Homo sapiens: one gene and its partners. The protein of the gene in region 1 interacts with the protein of each later gene in a biochemical or structural test. Each region holds a gene or a part of one and is shown in the gene's direction. Other genes may lie near its edges. The genes, in order: ENG, PRRC2B, CTTN and RTF1.

What was found.
Region 2: the proteins of ENG (region 1) and PRRC2B interact on a protein array, tested with the Homo sapiens proteins (one large-scale study listed by IntAct).
Region 3: the proteins of ENG (region 1) and CTTN interact on a protein array, tested with the Homo sapiens proteins (one large-scale study listed by IntAct).
Region 4: the proteins of ENG (region 1) and RTF1 interact on a protein array, tested with the Homo sapiens proteins (one large-scale study listed by IntAct).

Annotation. Positions count from the first base shown.
Region 1 is NC_000009.12:127,844,659-127,848,158, reverse strand, and holds part of ENG (endoglin isoform 1 precursor), read left to right. Parts: intron 1-1,023; exon of another isoform or gene 1,024-1,216; intron 1,217-3,500. UniProt on the Homo sapiens protein: Vascular endothelium glycoprotein that plays an important role in the regulation of angiogenesis. Required for normal structure and integrity of adult vasculature. Regulates the migration of vascular endothelial cells.
Region 2 is NC_000009.12:131,473,356-131,481,323, forward strand, and holds part of PRRC2B (protein PRRC2B), read left to right. Parts: intron 1-152; coding exon 153-369; intron 370-1,098; coding exon 1,099-3,180; intron 3,181-4,388; coding exon 4,389-4,594; intron 4,595-5,118; coding exon 5,119-5,264; intron 5,265-5,896; coding exon 5,897-6,038; intron 6,039-7,968.
Region 3 is NC_000011.10:70,423,521-70,431,488, forward strand, and holds part of CTTN (src substrate cortactin), read left to right. Parts: intron 1-1,811; coding exon 1,812-1,881; intron 1,882-2,176; coding exon of another isoform or gene 2,177-2,259; exon of another isoform or gene 2,260-2,567; intron 2,568-5,530; coding exon 5,531-5,679; intron 5,680-7,670; coding exon 7,671-7,760; intron 7,761-7,968.
Region 4 is NC_000015.10:41,420,953-41,428,920, forward strand, and holds part of RTF1 (RNA polymerase-associated protein RTF1 homolog), read left to right. Parts: intron 1-7,968. UniProt on the Homo sapiens protein: Component of the PAF1 complex (PAF1C) which has multiple functions during transcription by RNA polymerase II and is implicated in regulation of development and maintenance of embryonic stem cell pluripotency.

The DNA of each region.
Region 1 (3,500 bases):
CCAGTTCCTGAGCAACCCCCACTTAGCAGGAGCCGGCCTAGCGCTGTGCAGGTGTAATTTACTGGCCTGCTTGCCGACTCCATGGGAAGCTGTTATGATGACCCTCATCCCCATGTTACAGATGAGAACACTGAGGATGGAAAGGCAGCTGGCAGGTGGAAGAATCAGGACCTGAACCTTTGGCATCTGTCAAATCGCTGTGCTTTTCACCTCTACTGTAGGCTGCAGTGCAGGAACTTGACCCTGCAGGCATCGTAGAACCAGGGGGGAGCCCGGGGCCAAGGCATGCTGAGACCTCCTGGTGGCTGGGGGCAGTGGCTGGGCTGGATGCTGGGAAACCTGTGAGGCTGTAATTGGGCCTGAAAAGGGTAAAGAGTGGCCCGGGGGTACTGAACAAGACGGGGCAGGCATTGCAGCAAGAAGGACCCTTGTTGAAACGTATCTTCCTTGGGAGGCTGAGATGGGTGGATTGCTTGAGCCCAGGAGTTTGAGACCAGCCTGCGCAATACGGCGAAACCCCGTCTCTACAAAAAATACAAAAATTAGCTGAGTGTGGTGGTCCACTTGTAGTTACTCAGGAGGCTGAGGCATGAGAATCGCTTGAACCTGGGACGGGGAGGTTATAGTGAGCCGAGATCGAGACACTGTACTCTGGCCTGGGTGACAGAGTGAGACTCTATCTCAGAAAAGAAAAGGGGGGGTGGCAGCGGGAAGAAAAGTATCTGTCCTAGTATGATGAAATAATATTCACAGCTTCTGTGTCTGGGGCACCTACTTAGTACCAGGCACTCAACAGGGGTTACCCCATCAAACTGACACACTCAGCCTGTGAATGCCTGCTGCTTGCTGGAGCCAGACTGTCTGGGTTTAAATCCAGGCCGTGACACTTAGTAGCTGGGTCACCTCGGGCAGCTGGTCTTCAGTTTCTTTAACCGCCCTGGTCTTCAGTTTCCTGGAGTGTGCATGGGTGTAATAGCGCCGCCCACCTCACAAGGCTGCTGTGAGGATCAAATGAGTTCACTCGTGTAAAGCTGCCTAGGCTCCCAGTAAGCATGATGGGAGCATCTGCAGTGATTATTGGTGGTCTGCAAATGGGGAAACTGAGGCTCAGAGAGGTTAGGCTTCTGCTCAAGGTGACCAGCATTTTAAGAGGCAGAGCTGGGATTTGATCCAGGCCATCTGGCTCCAGAGCTGTTTTTCTTGATCATCCTCCAAGGTGCTGAAGGTAGCCCTCTGGAAATCTGGGAGGTGCTGTGTGCACATGGGTGGCGAGGGTGGAGAGGGGACAGTGGTGGGAGGTGGCTTCTGGGTCTCTCACTTGGGGTTCCAGTCACCCAGGCCCCCAGCGGCTCCTCCTCTGACCCAGTCCCGGGAGGCCCTGGCGTTTCCCTTGGTGCCAGGGGATTGTTTTCAACTTGGTCTGGGCCCGCCTCAGGCTCCGGGAGACAGGCCCAGGCGTCACACTCCCTCCTGTCTCCCCATTCTCGTCTGCGGGGTGGGGGCGGCCAGGATTCGAAAAGGCCCCAAAATAAATGGACCTCTTATCTGATCTCCCCGCCAGGCCTGTTATCTGATCATTACATAATGGCCAGGCTTGTGGCCTCTCCCGCTGGCTGACGGCATGGAGGAGGCGGCCCCAGGCGGCCCCAGCAATCCGGGAGGAACTGGGGTTCCTGGAAGTCTGGGGAGGGGGCAGGGAAAGTCCCAAAGGGAAGGAGGGAGGCGCTGCGATAATCTGCAGGCCAGACACTGGGTCATGTTGGGAGACGCGGGTCCGAGGCCCGGCCTGGTCAACCATGTGCTGTGAGACTTTGACCTGTCCCGTCCCTCCAGACCTCAGTCTCCCCATCTGAGTAGGAGGGGCTTAAGCTAGGTAACAGCCAAGGAACCTGCGCTCACCGATGAGGAAAGGAGAGGGTGGGGAGAACATGGGGGCTGGTGGGTCAGAGGGACTGGAGACAGGAGATGGCACCAGCCCTTGATTTTGTTGGGGTGAGGGAGATCCCAGTGACCTCTCCATCCCAGAGGACCGTCACCTGGAGGCCACCCCATCCCGCCACTTCACCCCACCCCTTAGAACAGTCAATTCTACAGTGACTGAAGTCAGTCAAATAATTGTAATTAAGAGAAAGCTGCCGGCCAGGCATGCTGGCTCACTCATGGTGGCTCACACCTGTAATCCTAGCACTTTGGGAGGCTGAGGCGGGAGGACTGCTTGAGCTCAGGAGTTTGAGACCAGCCTGAGCAACATAGTGAGACCCAGTCTCTACTGAAAATTTAAAAAATTAGCCAGGCGTGGTGGCGCACAACTGTAGTCCCAACTACTTGGGAGGCTGAGGCAGGAGGATCGCTTGAACCCAGCAGCTCAAGGCTGCAGTGAGCTGTTATCACACCACTGCACTCCAGCCCAGGAGACAGAGGGCAACCTTGTCTGAAAAATAAACAAATAGAAATTTAAGAAAGAATTGCCATGTGCCCAGTCTCATGGAGTCCTCCCAGCCACCTCTGTGGATCATGTGGGCTCTGTTGTCATTTTATAGACCAGGTATTGAAGCCCCAAGAGGTGAAATCATTCACCAGAGCCACATAGCTGGTAAGCATTGGGCCTGAGAGGCAAACCAGGTCAGCCTGGCTCCAGGGAGCTTGCTTTTAACCAAAATGCCACTATGTCCAGGCACTCCAGAGTCCCTGGGACATGTAGGATAGGGTCAGAGAGACGACATATAAGGCCTGGGCCCCCGTGGCAGCCAGAAGTCCTCATCCAGATCTTCTCCTTCCCAAGACAGAGCTGGGAATGGCGTTGCCATGGCAAGGGGTGACCATCTCACTTCCTTTGCTGACTTCTGGGGCCCAGAGCCCAACGTGCTGTGGGAAGGTGAGGAAGGAGGCCGGTGAGGCTCCAGACAGCCCAGGGTTCAGAAGAAGCCTCCCTGCCCCCTCCTCTGAGCCGGCCTTGGCTGGACATGAAGCCAGTCTCTCCGCGCCCATCTTTGATCTCCAAGAAAACAGGAAGTGAGCGCGACAAGATGGAGACACAAACTTCCAAACAGTCTCCCCTTCTGTCCTCCTTCCCTCCTCCGGAGCCCCCTTCCCCCGGCACATTCCTCAGGACGAGGTGTAGGAGCCTCATTTCCTTTTCCGACCCTGCTGGGTCAGGGTGAAATTCCATTCCTTTCCCTCAGGACCTGTGTTTCCGGGCTCTGCGGTCTGCTCTGGCAGCCTCCAAACCTGGGCCGCCTTCTCGGCTCGCCCTGTCCCTTGGGGCTAGGGAACTCTCAACCCCTTCAGACCATTCCTCCCACCACCTTGAGGCAAGAGAGGGGAAGCTTTGTCTCCTGAGCTCAGCTCCTGCCTTACCTGGAGGGAGACTTGGGTTCACACCTAGGCCCTGCCATGAAGTTAGGGTTGCCAGATACATCAAATGAAAATCAGCCGGGTGTGGTGGCTCATGCCTGTAATCCCAACACTTTGGGAGGCCGAGGTGGGAGGATCTCTTGAGT
Region 2 (7,968 bases), 3.6 Mb from region 1:
GATTAAGAGCCCTATGATGTGTAGGTGGGTGGGGTGCTGTATCCACATGAAAGTCAGGGTAACTGTTAACTTCTTTGGGCCTTTGGTTGACCCTGAGATTGGAGCAGGGCTTTCTAAATGAGATGATGTAGATCAGTCTTTGCCTTCTTCAGGACTGATGAAGCCCATGATGCCCCAGGAGTCCCTCAATGGGACAGGCTGTCGCTCTGAGGATCAGAACTGTGTGCCCCCACTCCAAGAAAGAAAAGTGACCCCCATCGACTCACCCCCTGTGTGGAGCCCAGAGGGCTACATGGCACTGCAGAGCAAGGGCTACCCGCTCCCGCACCCGAAGTCGAGTGACACCTTGGCTATGGACATGCGTGTCAGGTGAGATGAAGCCTGGTCCTGCTGCCTTGCCACTGAAGGAGGACTCCAGGTCCTAATTGAGAGGGCCCTGGGATGAGCTACCATCCTAGGAGACACTGCCCACGGGAGACGTGCTCCTTGAAGGGACTCCTGGTTCCTCTGGGGAAGGAGAGTGTGAGGAGGATTGCTTGAATGCTTTGTCCAAGAGGCTCTTTTCAGATGGTGAGACGTAAGGTGAAGGAGAAGTCCCGGGGTCCTCAAATCCTGGGCACAGGGCAGGCGGGTGGGGGCTTCACAAGGCAGGTGGGGTCCAGAGCATGGGTCTTGGCTCATTTCTGTGGAAGTAAACAGAGTTAGCCCTGCCACCCCCATAGCCCCAGACTCTTCACGGCCTCCCAGGCTCCAGCTTGCTCTTGCTCTTTGACCCGGAGGATTGCCTGGCTCCTCTGTCTCCAGGGGGCACACCGTACCCAGCCTGCGGCCACGACAGTCTTCACTCTCAAGGACTCCAGGGGCCACCGACCAATTCATGGCCTGGCATTTCTGAGACGTGTTTAAAGATAGAACAAATGTTGATGCTTATGTTTTTTTTTGGTTGTTGTTTTTTGTTTTGTTTTTCTAGCTTTCTTTTTAAAAAGTGTTTTAGTTTTTGTTTTTGTTTTTTCTTTTTAAAACTAAGCTCTGTGTTCAGCATGGAAACCAGGAACCAGGCTCCAATCGCATTGACTGATTTTTCTGGTTCCTTTTCAGGAATGAAAGCTCTTTCTCTGCCTCACTCGGAAGGGCAGGGGGCGTAAGTGCTCAGCGCGATCTCTTTGAGGAGAGAGGGGAGGAGTACTTGAGTGCTTTTGACAAGAAGGCCCAAGCAGACTTTGACAGCTGTATCTCTTCTCAAAGAATAGGCCAGGAGCTTTTGTTTCCACCCCAAGAAAATGTTCAGGATGCAGGTGCTCCTGGGGGTCACACCCAAAACCTCAGGTGTTCCCCATTGGAGCCTGACTTTGTCCCAGATGAGAAAAAGCCAGAGTGTGGCAGTTGGGATGTTAGCCACCAGCCAGAGACCGCTGACACAGCCCATGGTGTTGAGCGGGAGACACCCCGGGAGGGGACGGCCTTTAACATCTCCTCCTGGGACAAGAACGGGAGCCCCAACAAACAGCCATCCTCGGAGCCTGAATGGACTCCCGAGCCCCGGAGCTCCAGCAGCCAGCACCCGGAGCAGACGGGCAGGACCCGGAGGTCGGGACCCATCAAGAAACCAGTCCTGAAAGCCCTCAAGGTGGAAGACAAGGAGAAGGAGCTTGAGAAGATTAAGCAGGAGCTAGGGGAGGAGAGTACCCGGCTGGCCAAGGAGAAGGAGCAGAGCCCCACGGCAGAAAAGGATGAGGACGAAGAGAACGATGCCTCTCTGGCCAACTCCTCCACCACCACTTTGGAGGACAAAGGCCCTGGCCATGCCACTTTTGGCCGCGAGGCCACCAAATTTGAAGAGGAGGAGAAACCTGACAAGGCCTGGGAAGCCAGACCCCCACGAGAGTCCAGCGATGTTCCCCCCATGAAGAGAAATAACTGGATCTTTATTGATGAGGAGCAAGCCTTTGGGGTCAGAGGACAGGCCCGGGGCCGGGGCCGTGGTTTCAGAGAGTTCACTTTTCGTGGTCGGCCTGCTGGCGGAAATGGGAGCGGCCTCTGTGGTGGGGGGGTCCTGGGGGCCCGCAGCATCTACTGCAGCAGTCAGCGCAGCGGCCGTGGCCGGGGCCTGCGAGAGTTTGCGCGGCCAGAGGACTGCCCCAGAGCCAAGCCCCGACGGAGAGTTGCCAGTGAGACCCATAGCGAGGGCTCAGAGTATGAAGAACTTCCCAAGCGCCGCCGGCAGAGGGGCTCCGAGAACGGGAATGAAGGCTCGCTCCTGGAGAGGGAGGAGAGCACCTTGAAGAAGGGCGACTGCAGAGATTCTTGGCGGTCCAACAAGGGGTGCTCTGAGGACCACAGCGGTCTAGATGCCAAGAGCCGAGGCCCTCGGGCCTTTGGGCGAGCCCTCCCTCCCCGGCTGAGCAATTGCGGGTATGGACGGAGAACCTTCGTCTCCAAAGAGTCACCCCACTGGCAGAGCAAAAGTCCAGGCAGCTCTTGGCAGGAATATGGCCCTTCCGACACATGCGGATCCCGGCGACCTACAGACAGAGACTATGTCCCAGATTCCTACAGACACCCTGACGCATTTGGTGGCCGGGGCTTTGAGGACAGCCGCGCGGAGGACAAGAGATCCTTCTTCCAAGATGAACACGTGGCAGATTCTGAAAATGCAGAGAACCGGCCCTTCAGGAGAAGGCGCCCCCCACGCCAAGATAAGCCCCCTCGATTCCGGCGCCTCCGGCAAGAGCGGGAGTCCCTGGGCCTGTGGGGACCCGAGGAGGAGCCCCACCTGCTGGCAGGTCAGTGGCCAGGCAGGCCCAAACTGTGTTCTGGGGACAAGAGTGGCACTGTGGGCCGCAGGTCCCCTGAGCTCTCCTACCAGAACTCCTCCGATCACGCCAATGAGGAGTGGGAGACGGCCTCCGAAAGCAGCGACTTCAGCGAGCGGCGGGAGCGGCGGGAAGGCCCTGGGTCCGAGCCCGACTCCCAGGTGGATGGTGGCCTGTCGGGGGCTAGTTTGGGTGAGAAGAAGGAGCTGGCCAAGAGGAGCTTCTCCAGTCAGAGACCCGTGGTTGACAGACAGAGCCGAAAGCTGGAGCCGGGAGGGTTTGGGGAGAAGCCCGTTAGGCCAGGTGGTGGTGACACCTCCCCTCGCTATGAGAGCCAACAGAATGGGACGCCTTTGAAAGTGAAAAGGTAAAACCAGACACCATCTGGGCCCTTTTTGTTGTTGTGTTCTGTTCTCAGCAGCACTGAGTTCACGCATGCATGCCGATGCCGCCGTGTGTCGGGGCTGGGGGCCTGCCCCCAGGCCGTCTGTGCGCGTCTCCATTGCCTGCCCCCACATTGCCTGTCTGCTTCTCGTGGTGGTGTTATTGTGGCTAGAGCTCCCACCCCCACCCCCACCCCAGTGGTGCTCTTGAGGCCACTGTCCAGCACCTGACCTGAGAGTCCAGTCATGTGTCCCTGGAGCCCCGCCGAGGGGCCGCTGCAGCGAGGAACGTTGCCTGTGCACAGTGCCAGGTGCCGGTCAGTCCACCAGAGTCCTCTGCTCCGGAGTTGCTGCCAGGCGGCGTCCTAGGGGGCATCGCTGGCCTCGTGGCTGCATGGAAGTGGCTCTTCCTAGATGGTTCTGCTTCTCCACTGTGAGGAGACGTGGCCCCACGGTGGGGTTGCCACCTCAGCATGGCAGGAGCCCAGCAAACGCAGAGGGGAGCAGGCTGCACATGGTCTGGCGAGCACCTCTTCCACAGCCAGAGGCATTCGGGTGATGACCTCTGCTCAGGGACCAGGAGAGGGTCCCCTGCACAGTCTGGGTTGACTGACTGCACTTGGCTTGTGCCTCGGACAGGGAGGTGCAGGGGCTGCTGAGGCCTTCCCTGTCCTCAGCATACTGAGGAAGATGGCTTCACACCTCCACTCTCCTTAGAATTCAAGGCAGAGAAACTCCCAGAGAAGGAGCCACAGGGAACACCGACTCTTTCAGGTGGCATCTAATCCAGCTTTCCAGGCGCCAGAGGCTGACCCTTGGCTTCACCTCAGTTTTCTGCCCCAAGGGCCCTCCGGCAGGGCAGTCCTGGAGAGGAGCAGAAATGCTGGCGTCTCCATTCTGAGCATATTCCCCTTGTCTCTCTCCCCCCTACACTCTGAACATAGCATGTGGGAGAGCCCTGGGGAGCCACTTTCCCCAGGAGCAGGCAGAGCCGGTGGGGGCAGCCTTACACGTATGTTTGCACACGGACATGGATGCACTGTGGCCAGCCTGCCGCTCCTCCCCACCCGAGGAGTCAGCTAGAGGAAGTGGGCCTAGATCAGGGTGCCGGGCTTGTGTGCAGGCTGTGTGCACGTGCGGTGTTTTCCCTCCTTCCCCAGCTCTGGTTAACAAGATCCTCTTTCCCTTACAGATCCCCAGACGAGGCCTTGCCTGGAGGTCTTAGTGGCTGCAGCAGTGGGAGTGGCCACTCCCCCTATGCCCTGGAGCGGGCAGCCCATGCCAGTGCTGACCTTCCCGAAGCCTCCAGTAAAAAGGCAGAGAAGGAGGCCAAGTTGGCTGCTCCGAGGGCAGGTGAACAGGGAGAGGCCATGAAACAGTTTGACCTGAACTATGGAAGTAAGTCATCCTCATATCTTCAGGGGAAAGAACTCAGGCAGAACCAGGGGCCATGCAGTCCTCGGGCCTCCCGAGTTTGCCCTTGCACTGAGTACCTTAGCTTTCGGAACAGCTCGGCCAGGCCCTGGGCTGGGTTCTGGGGCTGTAGAGGTGAGCAGAGTAGGTAGGATTCCCACCGAGTGTTGCTCACAGCCCGTTGAATCCCCGTGACACCCTGCAGCTTCCGGGCTTTAAAGAGAGGAAGCCTGGGGCCCAGAGACGTTCGGTGGTGTGTCCGAGGTCACACACAGCTGTAGGAGCAGAGCTGGGGTTTAAGCTCTTTGCGTGTTCTCTCAGTTGTGCCCTTGGGCCTCTTTGGTTTGGGGTAACAATGTGTTAGATCAGAGGCGGCCTGAGAAAAGTGCGGAAGTCCTGTCCAGGTTTCTGTCGAGCCTGATGCTAGATCTCAGGCGCCTGTTGAATTGGGTTGTTCTTGTCTCCTGGTGAGTGGAAAGACTGTTCCTTCTCGTGAAATCTTGGTTCAGGTGCCATCATTGAAAATTGCGGGTCCAGCCCCGGGGAGGAGAGTGAGGTGGGTTCTATGGTGGGCGAAGGCTTCATCGAAGTCCTGACCAAGAAGCAGCGCCGCCTGCTGGAGGAAGAGAGAAGAAAGAAGGAGCAGGCCGTGCAGGTGAGGGGCGGAGGGTGGGGGGGCATGGGGCTGGAGGGCAGGCTGGCAGATGCCCAGGAAACCCAGAGCCAGAGGGTAAGGGAGTTCTCGGTCAAGCTCAAGGTGGCAGAGAGGAAGAAAGGAGTATTTAGCAAGCACACATTGTCTCCCCGTTCCTGCTATTACCAAGGCCCTTCTATCAATGTAGGAATAGGTGGTGGCATCACTGTTATGCAGTGGAAGAAACCGAGTCTTGAAGAGGGTGACTTCTCTAGGGTGATAACAGTGGAAACTTGTCCAAGGCAAGATGCAGACCTCCGTCACCTCCCAGCTTCTCCTTCCTCCCCACTCCTCATTCCTGAGTGGAATGAGATTTGTCTCCCTCAAGTCAAGTGGATCGTGAACGCTATACTAAAATGGAGTCAGGGCTGGACCTGCACACAGATTACAGTCCGTTGGCCTTTCAGGTCTTTCTTGGGGGGTGCTTTGCTTGGCATCGCAGTTCTGCTTGAGGTTTTGGGAGACGAGCGTTCCACACATCTCTGGAGCATTTTCAGGTGGTGTGATTTTTGGTACCTGGGATACTTATCCTGGGGAGAATTTGTCAGTCTTGGTGCCTTTGGCTAGACTACAGCATCCTTTCTTCCCCTCAGGTGCCTGTCAAAGGTCGAGGCCTTTCCTCCCGTATTCCTCCTCGATTTGCAAAAAAGCAGAACAACTTATGTCTGGAGCAAGGTGACGTGACCGTGCCTGGCAGCAGCCTGGGCACTGAGATCTGGGAGAGCAGCAGCCAGGGTGAGAGTTGGGGGTGTGACCCCAGCTGTGGCACCCAAGGTCACATCACACACTGGGTTTGCTTCTGGGGAGGATCCTGCTTTTGAGCTACGAATATAGATGGAATACAGATGGAGTACCTGTTTGCTGTGTTCCGCTGCTGAGCTAGTCGCTGAATGCCGTCTGAGTGATTTGCTGCTGCAACCCCCAAACGGATACACAATTTTCCTTGCCTAAAATTGGTAGAAGAGCAGAGCATTCATTAGTCTGGTGATCTGGAAAAGGATGGCCCCTTGGGCTTAGATCACACAGTAGTGGGAATGGCCTTCTTTGTTGGTCGTCGTTTTCTCCCACTAACTTATGGAAGAGAAGCAAATGACAGATAGACCAGCCGCAAGAGTTCAGGAGCTCTCTTCTGTGCTGTGCACCCTTTTCTTAACATGGGGAAGGCTCTGGAAACCCCTCCCTGAATGCTCTTCTGGAAAGGCAAACTGAGACCAGAAGACGGTATACGTTACTTCTTAGAACATTTGTTGCCCTGAAAACTTTTTTTTTTTAATTCTATATCAAATGTAATTTTTCTGGGAATTTTTCCTTATAAAATAGAAAACTATTTTCATAGAATAGGTTCTTCTTGAGGTTTAGGTGAGGCAGGGCCCTGCGCTGTTAGCCCAGAGCATGCATAGATGAATAAAAACATGGACATTCGATATTTCACAGCTCAGGCCCATGAGGGGAGCTTGGAGAGGTCACCTAGTGCCAGCTCATTTTTCTGCAAAGCAGCTGAAGCTTCTAGAGGGAAGGGACTTGACTCAGGGACTCCAGGGTCATAGGACAAGCACCCGAGACACTGAGTTCTGGGCCTTGATTCTTTCACTGTTTCCACATAGCTTGTCCTCATGTGCTCGGTGAAAACTTTGGTTCTTGCAAACTACAAAATAACATTCAACATGCCCAGCTTTGATGGAAAGGAAGCACAACCATTTGATAAAACATCAATAACACTACATTTGGTAGTGGCTGAGTGACAGGTGTCATAGTATTGGTGTCCAAAAATGCCCAGGTGCCAGATTGGTTGAGCTGCCAGGTGTGAATCAGATGTGACTCTCAGGTGTGAGTCATCATCCCCTTTTGTCAGATCTTTTACTCCAGAATTCTGCAGGGGCTCATTGGTTTCTCAGACCAGGGGTTGTGTCCAAGGGATGGCTTCAGAGAGCCCTTGGATATTAAAATAGCATGTGAAAGGATTTTTTTTTTTTTTAAAGATGGGGTCTCACTATGTTGCCCAGGCTGGACTTGAACCCCTGGGTTCAAGCAATCCTTCTGCCTCAGCCTCCTGAGTAGCTGGGATTGCAGATATGTGCCCCCACCCCCTGCTAGCATGTCAACTTTTGCATGCATATCTATTTTTCTGGGCTCCGGATCCATGGCCATTCAAAAAGTGGTCTGTGAGCTTAAAAATTTTTAGTAATACCCGCTGGGATCTTTCAAAGACTCTGTAGAAGCCACCAACTTTGGCCAGGAGTGGTGGCTCACACCTATAATCCCAGCAGTTTGGGAGGCCAAGGCTTGAAGATCACTTGAGATCAGGAGTTCAAGACCAGCAACAGAGTGAGACCCTGTCTCTATTGTTTAAAAAAAAAAGAAGGCCAGGCCTGGTGGCTCACGTCTGTAATCCCACCACTTTGGGAGGCTGAGGCAGGCAGATCACCAGGTCAGGAGATCGAGACCATCCTGGCTAACATGGTGAAACCCCGTCGCTCCTAAAAATACAACAACAACAAAAAATTAGCCGGGCGTGGTGGCGGGCACCTATAGTCCCAGCTATTCGGGAGGCTGAGGCAGGAGAATGGCGTGAACCCGGGAGGCAGAGCTTGGCAGTGAGTGGAGATCGCGCCACTGCACTCCAGCCTGGGCGACAGAGCAAGACTCCGTCTCCAAAAAAAAAAAA
Region 3 (7,968 bases), on another chromosome or scaffold:
CAGCACCATCCAGGGGCGTAGGCAGGCAGAGCAGGTGTTCGGGCTGGGCTCCCCAGGGAGCAGTAGCCTGGGCTCATTTCTGAGGGCAGGCGCGAGTTCACCAGGAGAGAAGGCTCAGGAGACCACGGAGGGGCGAGGTGTGGGCCTGGGTGGGACAGGAGTCACTGCAGGTTCTCAAGGAGCCTAGCTGCAGAGGGAGGGTGGGGAGCGGGGATAGAGCTGGCCCTGGAGAGCCCCACACACCACAGAGCATTCTGCATGTCGTGACATGCGTCACACACCACAGAGCATCTGACGTGCGTGGCCCCAGAAAGGTTAGCAGGCAAGGAACACTGGGGGGGTCTACTTTGAGAAGCCCCCGGCCTCAGCGTGGAGTCTGGGTTGTGGGGGTTGGCCTGGGCAGAGGGGTGTGGTCCTGAAGAGAGCTGGAGGGGCTCGGGTGGTGGAGAAGCAGGGCATGGTGTTTGGCGCCAAGGGACGCAGGGGAGGGAGCAGTCGGGTGGATGTGGGGTGGACGTGGGGCCAACTGTGGAGCCGAAGAACTGGGAGGAGCAGATGTGGGTGTCAGCGAGAGAGAGCTGGGGTAGGGCCGGGGCCGGGTCCGGGTGGCGTGCAGAGTTGGGAGGGGAGTAGGCACGCGGTCAGAGGACACTGGGCAGGGGGACCCAGTGAGGTAGCAGGGGCCTTGCAAGGCACTGGGACAGACGGAGGGAAGGAGCTCCCCTGTGGGTGAGTCAGAGGTTGTGGCTTTGAGGCCGGAACCTGAGGGACTGCCTGTGTTGTGGGTGTCTGTGGTCAGCATTGCTGGTGTTGGCGGTGACCGCTGAGCTTGTGAGCACGTGAGGAGGCAGTGTGTGGGTGTGGCCTTTCGTGTCATTGTCTTTCATCCAGGAGGGGGTGGAGCTTCTCTCTCTGTTTGCTGTGTGATGGAGGAGTCCAAGGCTTAGAGAGGGTGACGTAACTGCCCGGGTCCCCATACATTGTGGGGATAGGGCTACAACCCAGGCTGGGAGGTGAAGTTGCCCCCTCAGGGCAAGGTGATGTCTGCAGAGGGCCCAGTGGGTGATGGGACCCAGTAAGGCTGATGGCCTTGCCTTTGAACAGGTGCAAGCAGCTCAAGGGACATGGAGTAGACGCTGGAGCTGACTGATGGGAGGAGGGAGCGGGGTCCGAGGAAGGACAGGCGGGCCAGGAAGGGGGCAAGCAGGAGGTGCTGGGCAGAAAGGGGCCATGGTATGGGGGCTCTGGTGGCTTCTGAGCCTCAGGTGTTCTCATCAGAGGTAGTGAAACCCACAGTGAAACTGGGTACGGCCACTGGTCTCCATGAGCCCTGACAGTCTCCACCTGAGTCAGCACGTAAGAGTCATCGCCGTCGCTTGGTCAGACCATAGTTGAGTCCCCTGCAATGCAGAAAGGTGTGATTGCACCACTGGGTAGTGTGTAGGACGGGCCACTGGAGGCTTGCATGTGTCCCCAGCGTCTTCGCTTCCTGTAAATGCTCACACCTCTGGGTGGCGACGGAGGGTGGGGAAGGCTTGAGGCTGATCCCAGAATTGGTTTGTGGTAGAGCAGATGGAGATACATGCATTTCTTATGCTAATGCTGACCCACGATTGCCTGCAAATGTGGTTGGTAATAGTTTTCATGCCTCAGTTAGTTTGCAAAACCGAGAGGCCATGAAGAGTGCTCTGGGCTGTGTGGCTGGGCCTTTGGGAAGATCTGGGGAAGGCATTTGCATCTGGCAGGAGCTACCACAGGGCATGGAGAAAAGAGAAAAGTGCTCTCCTGACGCCCATGTCCTGTCTCTGCAGAATGCGTCAACCTTTGAGGATGTCACCCAGGTGTCCTCTGCCTACCAGAAGACAGTACCTGTCGAAGCTGGTGAGTCCCGGCTGATACCAGGAGCACCGTGTGGTTTCCCAGGAAAACACTGAGGGGAAGGACAGTTGTGAAACAGCCAGGAGCAGATGCACCACTAGTTGAAAGCGTGGTTGTTGCTGCGTATTTTTGGGAAAGAAAATGATCGTTCTGATGAAGATCTTGTTTCTCCTGCAGAGGTTTAGAGTCACCTTTTAGACGCAGCATGGTGCAGCCGTTTCAGTGGGGCCCGTTTCAAGGGGCTCTTCCCAGAGCAAAGGGGCTAAGTGCACATTCACAAGGGCCTCCACACTGCCAGTGACCAGCTTCTGGGAGCAGCTGGGGCCTGCCCAACTCCCTGAGCCGCTCGGTCGCAGCTGTGACAGGAGGAAGACATCATGACGTCGATGTGCAGGCGACAGCAGACATTCTCTCTGCTGCTCGTTCTTGGGCCCTTGACAGGGAGCTCGAAACCTGTCCTTTTCTGTGCTGGACACACGATGGAGTCAGATGTGGGCCCTGCCCCGGAGAGTCAAGTAGTTGGGGAAAATGTTATACATACATGAGAGCAAGTGCTAAATTTAACACAGGATGCAGAGAGCCACCACTGACTTCCTTCAGGGGCTATGGACCCACAGTTCTCAGAGATTGAGGGCCCAGGACGCTTTGACACTTTGACCACTCGTGAGAACCCCCAAGATGTTGATGTATTTGATGACATTGACTATATTAGAAATTAGAGGAATGTGGCCCGGCACAGTGGCTCATGCCTGTAATCCCAGCACTTTGGGAGGCCAAGACGGGCGGATCACGAGGTCAGGAGATCGAGACCATCCTGGCTAACACGATGAAACCCCGTCTCTACTAAAAATACAAAAACAAAATTAGCCAGGCATGGTGGCGGGCGCCTGTAGTCCCAGCTACTCGGGAGGCTGAGACAGGAGAATGGCGTGAACCCAGGAGGCGGAGCTTGCAGTGAGCGGAGTTTGCGCCACTGCACTCCAGCCTGGATGACAGAGCGAGACTCCGTCTCAAAAAAAAAAAAAAAAGAGAGAGAGGAATGGTTTATTTATTTATTTATTTTGAGACCGGGTCTTGCTGTGTCATCCAGGCAGGACTGCTGCCTCAGTCTCCTGGGCTCAAGCAGTCCTCTTGCCTCAGCCTCTGGAGTAGCTGGAACTATAAGCGCATGCCCCCTGCCCAGTTAAATTTTTTTTTTTTTTGAGACAGAGTATCACTTTGTCGCCCAGGCTGGAGTGCAGTGGCGCGGACTCGGCTCACTGCAAGCTCCGCCTCCCATCCCGGGTTCACGGCATTCTCCTGCCTCAAGCCTCCGGAGTAGCTGGGACTACAGGCGCCTGCCACCACGCCCGGCTAATTTTTTTGTTGTTGTTGCTATTTTTTAGTAGAGACGGGGTTTCACCGTGTTAGCCAGGATGGTCTCGATCTCCTGACCTCATGATCTGCCCGCCTCGGCCTCCCAAAGTGCTGGGATTACAGGCATGAGCCACTGTGCCCGGCCAAATTTTTTTATCTTTAGTAGAGATGAGGTCTCACTGTGTTGCCCAGGCTGGTCTTGAATTCCTGAGCTCAAGTGATCCACCTGCCTCGGCCTCTCAAAGTGCTGGGATTACAGGCATGAGCGACATTGGAAAGTTATTAATTGGTTCACTTAAAAAGAATAAACCTTGGCCGGGTGTGGTGGCTCATACCTGTAATCCCAGCACTCTGGGAGGCCGAGGTGGGTGGATCACCTGAGGTCAGGAGTTTGAGACCAGACTGGCCAACATGGTGAAACCCTGTCTCTACTAAAGATACAAAAAGTAGCTGGGCATGGTGGTCCACGCCTGTAATCCCAGCTACTCAGAAGACTGAGGTACGAGAATTGCTTGAACCTGGAGGCAGAGGTCGCAGTGAGCCTTGATTGCGCCACTGCACTCCAGCCTGGGCGACAACAGCTAAACTCCATCTCAAAAAATAAAAATAATAATATAACTGGCCATGCACAGTGGCTCATTCCTGTAATCCCAGCACTTAGTGAGAAGACCGGCATTGTTTTGTTTTGTAAATCTCTTTAATAGAAGATGGCTGCACTCTCACATCTGCCTCTGCAGTCTATCGATGTTACGTTGTTTAGGAAGAACATGTGGAATCACCTAGGTAGGCGATTGGGAAAGGGAGGAGTGTTTGTAACCTTGAGGGCAGCGTGGGTGTCCTTCTGCGACGCCGCCCAAGCGTGCCAGGCAGTGGTGGTCCTGCAGGCCGGCTCCTCTGGCCCTGTGAGGGACTCGCTACCCACTGTGCTTGGGCAGCACTGTGTGTTGGTCATTTGGAAAATGCTGGGTCTCTGAGTTGTGCTCGTCTTCCAGTTGTGGACACTTCTCATTCCACAATACCAAAAAAAATCACATTTGCTGTCATCATCTATTTCATCTGCAGAAGCTGAGTGGAAATCAGCATGTTCATGTGGCAGCCTCACATTTTTCAAAATTCTGTCTTTTACTTGAAAGCTGGAATTTTCCCGTTGGCAACAAATACTCCAGTAATTTTTCTTGACACAATAGGCTTAGTTCATTCACTTGGGAGAAAACTGTTGCCAGATACCCAGCTTTGCATAACCATAGTTGGACTGTCAGTTGTTATTTCAGGGAAAAACGCTATTCCATGAGAAAACAGTCAACTTGCAGCTCTCATGGTTCTATTCATGGTCCTTGAGACACAGACAGCCACCGCCACAGTCCCGGACACAGCAGGGAAGGCTCATGTGTCTTCCCACTTTTTTTTTTTTTTTTTTTTTTTTTTTTTTTGAGACAGAGTCTCGCTCTGTCGCGAGACTGGAGTGCAGTGGCACAATCTCGGCTCACTGCAACCCCTGCCTCCCAGGTTCAAGCGATTCTCCTGCCTCAGCCTCCCGAGTAGCTGGGATTACAGGTGCCTGCCACCAAGCCCAGCTAATTTTTCTATTTTTAGTAGAGACAGGGTTTCACCATGTTGGCCAGGATGGTCTTGATCTCTTGACCTCGTGATCCGCCCACCTTAGCCTCCCAAAGTGCTGGAATTACAGGTGTGAGCCACCATGCCCGGCCATATTCCCCACTTTTGACTTAAATTTTTATCATTTTTTCTTAATAGACACGGGGTCTCACTGTCTTTCCCAGGCTGGTCTCAAACTCCTGATCTCAGTCTTCCCGTCTCAACCTCCCAAAGTGCTGGGATTACAGGCATGAGCCACTGCCCTCTTTTCCATTTTTGTCACACACAATATAAAAAAATGTATACTCTGGTTGAGATTTACTATACTCAGTATACGTCAATTACAGTATACATCAGTACCTTAACTGCTTTATCAAGGACAGATGTCTTTAAGGGAAATTGGCTGTTTTTATTTAAAAAGGTGAGTGTGGTGGTGAAGATACCGTCTTATTTAGAGATCTTCCTGATGCCAGGCTTAGGGGGATTGCCAGTCCCACCAGGTACGCAGTGCCCTGCGGCAGGTGCCCAGTGCTGGCTCCGGACCAGTGGGCTGAGCTGGCAGCTGCAAGAACCTTTCCCTCCTTGGGGGTTAGGGGGATGACCGGTTCCTGGGGAGGTCACTCTGTGTGGGTGGGGCTGTTGTCCAGGAGCAGTGTTTTTGCTGTGCTCAAGGCACACGTCCTCCCTCCTTCCTCTATAGTGACCAGCAAAACAAGTAACATCAGAGCTAACTTTGAAAACCTCGCTAAGGAGAAAGAGCAGGAGGACAGGCGGAAGGCGGAGGCGGAGAGAGCCCAGCGGATGGCCAAGGAGCGGCAGGAGCAGGAAGAGGCCAGGAGGAAGCTGGAGGTGAGTGGCAAGGAGTGGGCCGCAGCGCACCCTCCCTGGGACCTGTGCCGAGGGGATTGGGAGCTCTGGGGCCTGGGCGGGGCTTATTCTCTCCTGGCCAGGTTTTCCTTGGAAGGCATGTTTAACTCTCCTTTAAGGCTCTCCATTAAGGCACTTGTCACTTGCAGCCACACATAGGCTGAGTCTCTGGCCACAATGCTCCAGGCAGCCGGCTAGCGCTATCCTGGTCTTGCCGGTCCAGCCCCAGGACCCGCCAACCTGCCCTGCCCTCTGTCCCTGAGCTGACGGCAGAGTCTTGTCGGCTTCCACCTCCACGGGGCTCCTGTCCAAATGTCAGCCTGAGTCTCTTCTCACCCCTCCCCCTCTGGAAGCCCCTCCTTTCCCAGGTGGAAGTTTGGGGTTTGGAGGGGACTCTGTGCAGAGGCAGCCTGCTCTCGGGGCCTGCTTCTGCTTGGCCAGCCCAGCCCCGCTCACCCAAGCCCCTGGGCTGTGGAGAAGCGCTCCCAGAGAAAGATGCCAGAAGTGCACCCCTGGCAGGGGCGGAGCACGAGCCTGTGTCTGGGTGCTTTGGGTCTAGCCTGGGTGGCTTGCCACTGACAAGGACTTTCCTTGTGCTCAGCTGGATCAGGGGGGTTGTGAATAGAGCCTGAGGCCTACAGATGTGTGTGTGTGAAGTTACCAGGTGTGGTTCTGCAGCTGGGGCATCTGCAGTGTGGGGCAGGCCCAGCCTGTCTGGAAGCCTGGGCTTCTCCTATCCACCCCAGGCCCTGCCCCTGCAGGGCCACACAGGACGTGCTACTTTGGGTGTTTAACCTGTGGATGGCATCAGGTGACGTGGGAATTTACAACTGTCCTGTTGGGGTCAAGCAAGGCCATAGATGCCAGGAACCGTGCTAGGGTCTCAAGACCAGGGGTGGTTTTCTCTTCAAAAAGACAAGACAGCACTACCATTGTTCCCGTTAGAGCAAGGCCGCCTGCAGAGGGAGAGGAGGGAAGGGGTTTGGAGTGGACACCTGGGGTTCAGATCCTGCCTGGGCAGCTCCCTGGCCAGTGTGCCTGTGCCTGCCACCTCACCCTCAGACTCAGCGTCTGGCACTGGAGCCCACAGGCTGTCAGTGAGTTTCCTGTTGCTGCCGTAGTCACCACCACACACAGCACACAGCTAGTGTCTTATAGCTCTGGAGGTCAGAGGTCCTCAAAGATGTCAGCAGGGCTGTGTTCCTCCTGGTGGCCCCTCGGCCCTGTCTTCCCATCTCCAGCCTCTGCTTTTGTTGTCACCGCCCCTCCTCTGTCCCTCACACTCCTGCCTCCCTCCTCTCAGGACCTTGTGATTACATTGGGTCCACCCAGGCAGTCCAGAGTTCTCCCCATCACAGAACCCTTAGTTTCATCACATACACAGTCCCTCCCCATGGGGTCTGGGGACTGCGATGTCAGCAGCTTTGAGGGGCTATTATCCTACCCCAGTTCATCCTTTGGCCCCTAAAGCTTCATGTCCATCCCATGTGCAAACATACTCAGCCCATTTTAAGGTCCCCAAAGTCTCAACCCATTGCAGCATCAACTCAGACTCCCAAATCTGTGCCTAAACTATCTAATCGTGTGTGGGCGAGAATGAGCTGTGGCCCAGTCCCGGCACTGTCGCGTCACTGGCTGTGTGATCTCGGCCTCAGAGCACACCTGCCCCTCGAATCCTGCCTAGGTGCTGGTGGGATCTGAGGCTTGGTGCTCCAGCTCCCCTGCCCCTCGGATCCTGCCTGGGTGCTGGTGGGATCTGAGACTTGGTGCTCCAGCTCCCCTGCCCCTCGGATCCTGCTGGGGTGCTGGTGGGATCTGAGGCTTGGTGCTCCAGCTCAGCCTTGGTGTGGGTGTTTTCCACTCCTTTCCCCAGAGCATGCCTAGAGCTTGCACACGATCTTCTGAAACACGGCAGGCGTGACAGTGCAGAGTGTCATGGCAGCATTCTGATTGCTGTTTGTTTTCAATCACAGGAGCAAGCCAGAGCCAAAACGCAAACGCCCCCTGTGTCGCCCGCACCTCAGCCAACCGAGGAGAGGCTGCCCTCGAGCCCCGTCTATGAGGTTGGTGTCTTTGGTGTTTGAATGAGCGTGAGTGACTTACTGCCAGAGCCCAGGTCCTGTTTGTGGAGTGGAGGAAGCCCTTGCAGGCAGGCAGTGTGGCGTGGGTGTAGAGGGCATCGCTGCATTCCACGCCCGGAGAGGGGTGGGCCAGGAGCGCCTGGGGGGTGGGTGACATGCCTCAGTGCTGTCAGGGGATAGCTGTGCAGGC
Region 4 (7,968 bases), on another chromosome or scaffold:
CTTTTTAGTAACACACTATAAGTATTTAGAAGAGAAATAGCTTCCTGTGTCTGCCATAGTACTTCCAAATTAAGCGTACATGTATAGGCTGGGCATGGTGGCTCATGCCCTGTAATCTCAGCACTTTGGGAGGCCAAAGTGGGAGGAACACTTGAGCCCAGGTGTTTGAGATCAGCGTAGGCAACAAAGTGAGACCTCATCTGTACAAAGACTTTAAAAATTGGCCAGGTGCAGTGGCTCATACCTGTAATCCCAGCACTTTGGGAGGCCGAGGTGGGCGGATCACCTGAGGTTGGGAGTTTGAGACCAGCCTGACCAACATGGAGAAACCTCGTCTCTACTAAAAATACAAAATTAGCCAGGCATGGTGGTGCTTGCCTGTAATCCCAGTTACTCAGAAGGCTGAGGCAGGAGAATCACTTGAACCCAGGAGGTGGAGGCTGTGGTGAGCCGAGATCGTGCCATTGCACTCCAGCCTGGGAAACAAGAGTGAAACTCTGTATTAAAAAAAAAAAAAAAAGAATTTAAAAATTAGCTGGGCATGGTGGCGTGCCTCTAGTCTCAGCTACTTGGGAGTCTGGGGTGGGAGGATTGCTTGAGCCTGGGAGGTTGAAGTTGCAGTTACTTGTGGTCCCACCGTTTCTCTTCAGCCCAGGTAACAGAGTGAGACCCTGTCCCAAAGAAAAAAAAAAAAAAGGCACTTGTATAACTAAAAGAACTTGACAGGGAGGTTTTAAGATGGCAAAACTACTGGTTCTTTTTTTTTTTTTTTTTAGGCAGGGTTTCACTCCTGTCACCCAGGCTGGAGTGCAGTGGCACAATTACAGCTCACGGCTGTAGCGTTGACCTCCCTAGCTCAGTGATCCTTCCCCCTCAGCCTCTCAAGTAGCTGGGACTACAGGTGTGCACCACCACACCCAGCTAATTTTTAAAATCATTTGTAGAGATGGGGGTCCCACTACATTGCCTAGGCTAGTCTGAAACTCCTGGGCTTGGGTGATTCTCAGGCTTTGGCCTCCCAAAGTGCTGGAATTACAGGTGTGAGCTGCCACACCAGGCCTTATTTATTTATTTGTTTGTTTGTTTATTTATTTATTTTTGAGATGGAGTCTCACTCTATCGCCCAGACTGGAGTACAATAGCACGATCTCGACTCACTGCACCTTCCACCTCCTGGGTTCAAGCAATTCTCCTGCCTCAGCCTCCTGGGTAGCTGAGATTACAGGCGCCTGCCACCACACCTGGCTAATTTTTTGTATTTTCAGTAGAGACGCTATGTTGGCCAGACTGGTCTCTAACTCCTGGCCTCAGGTGATCCAGCACCTGGCCTTATTTTAACCTTTGAAAGTTTTTAAAACTAAGACCTAGTTTGAGAGTTTGAAAGCTTTTCTTTTAGCATTTGACCTGATAGTGACTCTGTCCTTATTTTGACCACACCCTTTCTTCAACATTTTTAAATTTCAAGATACTTGCTGTTGGTGCCTATTGGGAAATAATAATTTGAGGCAAACCTCTGGGCTCTATGTCATCTCCCTTTATGGAATAATATTTATGCAGTAAGTCCTATAAAATGAAAAGCATTCAAGATAATAAAGGAACCAGAGTTCTCAATTCAAATCAGTACAACTCCGTATTTATAAAAATTTTACTCTACCTTTCTAAAAAACTAAAAATTGAGCTATGTGCACACTGGGATGCTTTATTTTATAGGTTTCTTATTTAAAATGGAGATTATATTGTCATGTCCTGTTTTTCTCTGTTTATCTAACTTGAAGTAGCAATAATTAAATTTGTCTTTGAGAGAATAGGCCCCCCTAAGTATTTTCTTTTTTCTTTTTTTTGAGACGGAGTCTCGCTCTGTCACCCAGGCTGGAGTGCAGTGGCGCGATCTTGGCTCCTGCAGCCTCCGCCTCCCGGGTTCAAACAATTCTCTGCCTCAGCCTTCCGAGTAGCTTGGATTACAGGCGCACGCCACCACGTCCAGCTAATTTTTGTATTTTTAGTAGAGACGGGGTTTCACCATCTTGGCCAGGCTGGTCTTGAACTCCTGACCTCGTGATCCACCCTCCTCGGCCTCCCAAAGTGTTGGGATTACAGGCGTGAACCACCGTGCCCGGCCAGCCCTGTAAGTATTTTCTAGGAGCTGTTTTTAGATACTACATGTAAAGAATATTATTATTATAAAGTATACTTCTATAAACCTTCCCCATAAATCTTGAGAAATTTAAAAGTTGTGCTTCTTGTTAATGTAGTGTTTTCCGCATTAATCAGAGGCAAATTTTGAAGTGTAGGAAGAGTTTGTGAGAAGTGTCAGTGTTAATTTGTGAAAACTTTAATTTGTGTCATGTTGCATCTAGCTTGATGTAATTCGCTTGTTAATTTCACTCTTTTCAAAGAGTGAGTCCCATGGGAGCTCCCTCCCCACCCAGCCCCCACCCAAGATGGAGTCTTGCTCTGTCACCCAGGCTGGAGAGCAATGGCACGCTGGGCTCACTGTAGCCTCCGCCTCTAGGTTCAAGTGATTCTCCTGCCTTAGCCTCCCGAGTAGCTGGGATGACAGGCACGCGCCACCACTCCCGGCTAATTTTACATTTTTATTAGAGATGGGGTTTCTCCATGTTGGTCAGTCTGGTCTCAAACTCCCGACCTCAGATGATCCACCCACCTCGGCCTCCCAAAGTGCTGGGATTACAGGGGTGAGCCACCACGCCCAGCCCTGGGAGCTTTAACAGTGAGGCTTTTAGGAAAAATACAAAACTGATCTTCAGACACAGGTCATATTGGTGTATTTATTTTTATTTATTTATTTATTTATTTTGAGATGGAGTCTCACTTTGTTGCCCAGGCTGGAGTGCAGTGGGACGATCTCAGCTCACTGCCACCTCCGCTTCCCGGGTTCAAGCAATTATCCTGCCTCAGCCTCCCAAGTAGCTGGGATTACAGGTATGCACCACCATGCCCGACTAATTTTTGTATTTTTAGTAGAGATGGGGTTTCACCATGTTGGCCAGGCTGGTCTCAAACTCCTGACCTCAAGTGATCCGCCCTCCTTGGCTTCCCCAGGGTGCTGGGATTTCAGGCATGAGCCACCGCATCCGGCCTGATTGTTCATCGTTCAACAGATGTATTAGACAGCGTTAGACACTAGAGCTATTGGGTGAACAAAATGGAAGCAGTTTCCACCTTCAAGGAGTGTAAAGTGGAATGAGAGAGAGATGAGGTGGGGAGATTGCTCAGAGAGAGTAATTTCCTTACAATTGCACTACAGGCCATGAAGCAAGGACAAGAATACTGTGGAAATATTAACCAGGGACCCTATTCTAGCCTGATGAGAGTGACATTGAAACAGACCTGGAATATGTGTTAAGGAGAAGCAGATTAGAAGACTGAAGAGTAAAGGGAAGAGTGTTGAATGTTCATGGTTGAGGCACCAGCATATATAAAAGAAATGAGACAGGAAGGACCTCGAACCCTTATGAAACTGAAAGAAGCACAGAGTGAGTAACATAAACTAGTTGCATAGTTGGAGAGAGAATAGTACAAATGAAACTGTAGAGGTAGATTCTGTTTTGACCCTTTGAGGATGGAGAAGTCAGTTTACGGACTACACTCAGCAGTAAAAATAAAATTGAATTGATAGAAAACATCAAATGTGTCATACATAGTAAATATAAGTGATGAAATTTGTGTGTCTCATATGTACATGTAGATGTATACTGGGTTGTGAGGTATAATTTATCTTCCTGTGGGCTGCGTTAAAAAGAGAAAAGTTTTTTGGCCAGGCGCAGTGGCTCACGCCTTTAATCCCAGCACTTTGGGAGGCCGAGGTGGGTGGATCATATGAGGCCAGGAGTTCGACCAGGCGGGCCAACATGGCGAAACCCCATCTCTAGTAAAAATACAAAAATTAGCCAAGTGCGGTGGCACACACCTGTAGTCCCAGCCACTGGTGAGGCTGAGGCATGAGAATCCCTTGAACCTAGGAGGCGGAGGTTGCAGTGAGCCGAGATCACCACTGTATTAGCCTGGGTGACAGAGAGACTCCGTCTAAAAAAAACAAAAGAAAAAAAGAAAAAAATTTAAAGCCACTGGAGGGCGTCAGCCTCCCCGGTGGCTGGGACTGCAAGTGTGTGCCACCACACTTGGCTAATTTTTGTTTTTTATTTTTGAGACGGAGTCTCGCTCTTTTGCCCAGGCCGGACTGCAGTGGCGCTGTCTCTGCCACTGCAAGCTTCGCCTCCCGGGTTCATACCATTCTCCTGCCTCAGCCTCCCGAGTAGCTGGGACTATAGGCGCCTGCCACTGTGTCCGGCTAATTTTTTTTTTGTATTTTTAGTAGGCACGGGTTTCACCATGTTAGCCAGGATGGTCTTGATCTCCTGACCTCATGATCTGCCCGCCTCGGCCTCCCAAAGTGTGCTGGGATTACAGGTGTGAGCCACCGCGCCTGGCCAATTTTTGTATTTTTAGTAGAGACTTTGGAGTTTATTCTGAGAGTAATAGGAAGCCATTGAAGGATTTTAAGTTGGAGAAGATTTTCAGATTTGCCTTACCCAGACTATTGTGGAGAGTAATATGGAGGGGGACACTAATGAAGTGGCAGAGAGAGGAGTCCAGATGAGAGATGATGGAGAACATAAGTTCCATTAGAATGGAAGCGCCAGGAGGGTAACCGTATGTGTTCACTATGCTGTCCCTGGCATCTAGAGCAGTGCCTATATGCAGTTGGCACCCAGTCAGTATTTATTAAATGAAGGACTGACTTGGATTGATATGGTTGTTATAGAGATGACAGATAGTGGAATTGGTTGGACATGATGTTCAGTATGTAGAACTAAAAGGCCTTGAAGACTGAGGACTGATTAGATGTTAGGATGAGAAGAGGAGTATTTAGGATTGATGCCAGGCACTGGCATGAGATGGGGAGTGCTGGAGGAGCAGGTTTAGAGGTGAAGATCCTGCATTCAGTCTGGGATATGTGGAGTTCGAAGTGACTATGAGATGTCTAAGTGGAGACATCAAGTAGGTAGTTGAAAATAACACTTGAGGGCCAGGCACAATGGCTCATGCCTGTAATCCCAGCACTTTGGGAGGCTGAGGTGGGAGGATTGCTTGAGCTCAGGAGTTTGAGATCAGCCTAGGCAACATGATGATGAAACCTGATCTCTACAAAAAAAAAAAATTTTTTTTGGAGGTGGAGTCTCGCTCTGTTGCCTAGGCTGGAGTGCAGTGACACCATCTTGGCTCACTGCAACCTCCGCCCTGGGTTCAAGCGATTCTCGTGCCTCAGCCTCCTGAGTAGCTGGGATTACAGGCACATGCCACCATGCCCAGCTAATTTTTTTGATTGTTTGTTTTTATTTTTTTTTTTGGGATAGAGTCTCGCTCTGTCGCCCAGGGTGGAGTGCAGTGGCACGATCTCTGCTCACTGCAACCTCCCCCTCCTGGATTCAAGCGATTCTTCTGCCTCAGCCTCCCGAGTAGCTGGGACTACAGGCGTGCGCCACCATGCCTGACTAATTTTTTGTATTTTTAGTAGAGACAGGGTTTCACCATATTGGCCAGGCTGATCTCGAACTCCAGACGTCATGATCTGCCCACCTCGGCTTCCCGAACTGCTAGGATTACAAGCGTGAGCCACTGTGCCTGGCCATTTTTTTGTATTTTTAGTAGAGATGGGGTTTTTCCATGTTGGCCAGGCTGGTCTCGAACTCCTGACCTCAGGTGATCCACCCCGCCCCCCCCCCCCCCCGCCCCCCCCCCCCGCCGGCCTCCTGAAGTGTTGGGATTACAGGCGTGAGTCTACTGTGCCCAGCCGCTACATATATATGTGTGTGTGTGTGTGTGTGTGTGTGTGTGTGTGTGTGTGTGTGTAATTTTTGTTTGTTTGTTTGTTTGTTTGTTTTTTAGGCAGAGTCTCACTCTGTTGCCCAGGCTGGAGCGCAATGGTGTGATCTCGGCTCACTGCAACCTCCACCTCCCAGGTTCAAGCAATTCTCCTGCCTCAGCCTGCCAAGCAGCTGGGATTACAGGGGCCCACCACCACGCCCAGCTAATTTTTGTATTTTTAGTAGAGATAGGGTTTCACCATGTTGGCCAGGCTGGTCTTGAACTCCTGACCTCGTGATCCACCCACCTTGGCCTCCCAAAGTGCTGGGACTACAGGCATGAGCCACCATGCCTGGTCTACAAATTTTTTTTTTTTTTTTTTTTTTTTGAGACAGAGTCTTGCTCTGTTGCCCAGGCCGGAGTGCAGTGGTGCGATCTCGGCTCACTGCAAGCTCCGCCTCCCGGGTTCACGCCATTCTCCTGCCTCAGCCTCCTGAGTAGCTGGGACTACAGGCACCCGCCACCATGCCCGGCTAATTTTTTGTATTTTTAGTAGAGACGGGGTTTCACCGTGTTAGCCAGGATGGTCTGGATCTCCTGACCTCGTGATCCACCCACCCTGGCCTCCCAAAGTGCTGGGATTACAGGCGTGAGCCACTGCGCCCGGCCCTACAAAATTTTTAAAAAATTAGCTGAGTGTGGTGGCATGCGCCTGTGGTCCCAGCTATTCATTCAAAATAAAAGCTACATAAGCTGGGTGTAGTGGTGTGTGCCTGTAGTCCCAGCTACCCAGGAGGCTGAGATAGGAGGATCACCTGAGCTTAGGAGGTTGAGGCTGCAGAGAGCCATGATCACACAACTGCACTCCAGCCTGGGTGACAGTGAGACCCTGACTCAAATAATAATAACAGTAATAATAATTATGCCGATGCTCGCCTGACAGAGTAGGCACTTAATAAATTTTTGTTGAATAAGCAGATGCTACTTGGCATACCTATGGTGTCAAGTTTTATTTTTTTTTGAAATGGAGTTTTGCTCTTTGTTGCCCAGGCTGGAGTGCAGTGGGGCAATCTCAGCTCACTGCAACCTCCGCCTCCCGGGTTCAAGTGATTCTCCTGTCTTAGCTTCCCAAGTAGCTGGGATTACAAGTGTCCGCCACCACACCTGGCTAATTTTTGTATTTTTAGTAGAGACGGGGTTTCACCATGCTGGCTAGGCTGGTCTTGATCTCCTGACCTCAGGTGATCTGCCTGGCTTGGCCTCCCAAAGTGCTGGGATTACAGGCATGAGCCACCATGCCTGGCCGCCTTCTTTTTTTTTTAATTTTATTTTTAGAGCTGGGGTCTCACTGTGTCACCCAAGCTACATGGTGGGACATTTTCTAACTTGGTTACATTGAGATTACTTGAAGAGATAAAGGACACTGTCACTTTGGGGGTTCTTGTTCCAACCCCTCTACTGCAATACTGATATCCCTTTTTTTTTTTTTTTTTTTTTTTTTTTTGAGATGGAGTCTCGCTTTGTTGCCCAGGCTGGAGTGCAATGACGTGATCTCAGCTCACTGCAAGCTCTGCCTCCTGGGTTCACACCATTCTCCCGCCTCAGCCTCCCGAGTAGCTGGGACTACAGGTGCCCGCCACTACACCCGGCTAATTTTTTTGTATTTTTAGTAGAGACGGGGTTTCACTGTGTTAGCCAGGATGGTCTCGATCTCCTGACCTTGTGATCCGCCCACCTCAGCCTCCCAAAGTGCTGGGATTACAAGTGTGAGCTACCGTGTCCGGCCCCCTACTCCTTTTTTTTTTTTTGAAGACAGGGTCTCACTCTGTTACCCAAGCTGAAGTGCAGTGACGTGGTCATGGATCACTCTAGCTTTGACCTCCTGGCTTCAAGTGATCCTCCCTCCTCTGCCTCTGGAGTAGCTGGGATCACAGGTGTGTGCCACCATGCCCAGCTAATTTATTTATTTATTTTGAGACAGAGTCTTGCTCTGTTGCCCAGGCTGGAGTGCAGTGGTGTGATCTCAGCTCACTGCAACCTCTCTGCCTCCTGGGCCCAACCAGTTCTCCCACAGCCTCCTGTGTAGCTGGGATTACAAGCATATGCCACCACATCTGCCTACTTTTTGTATTTTTAGTA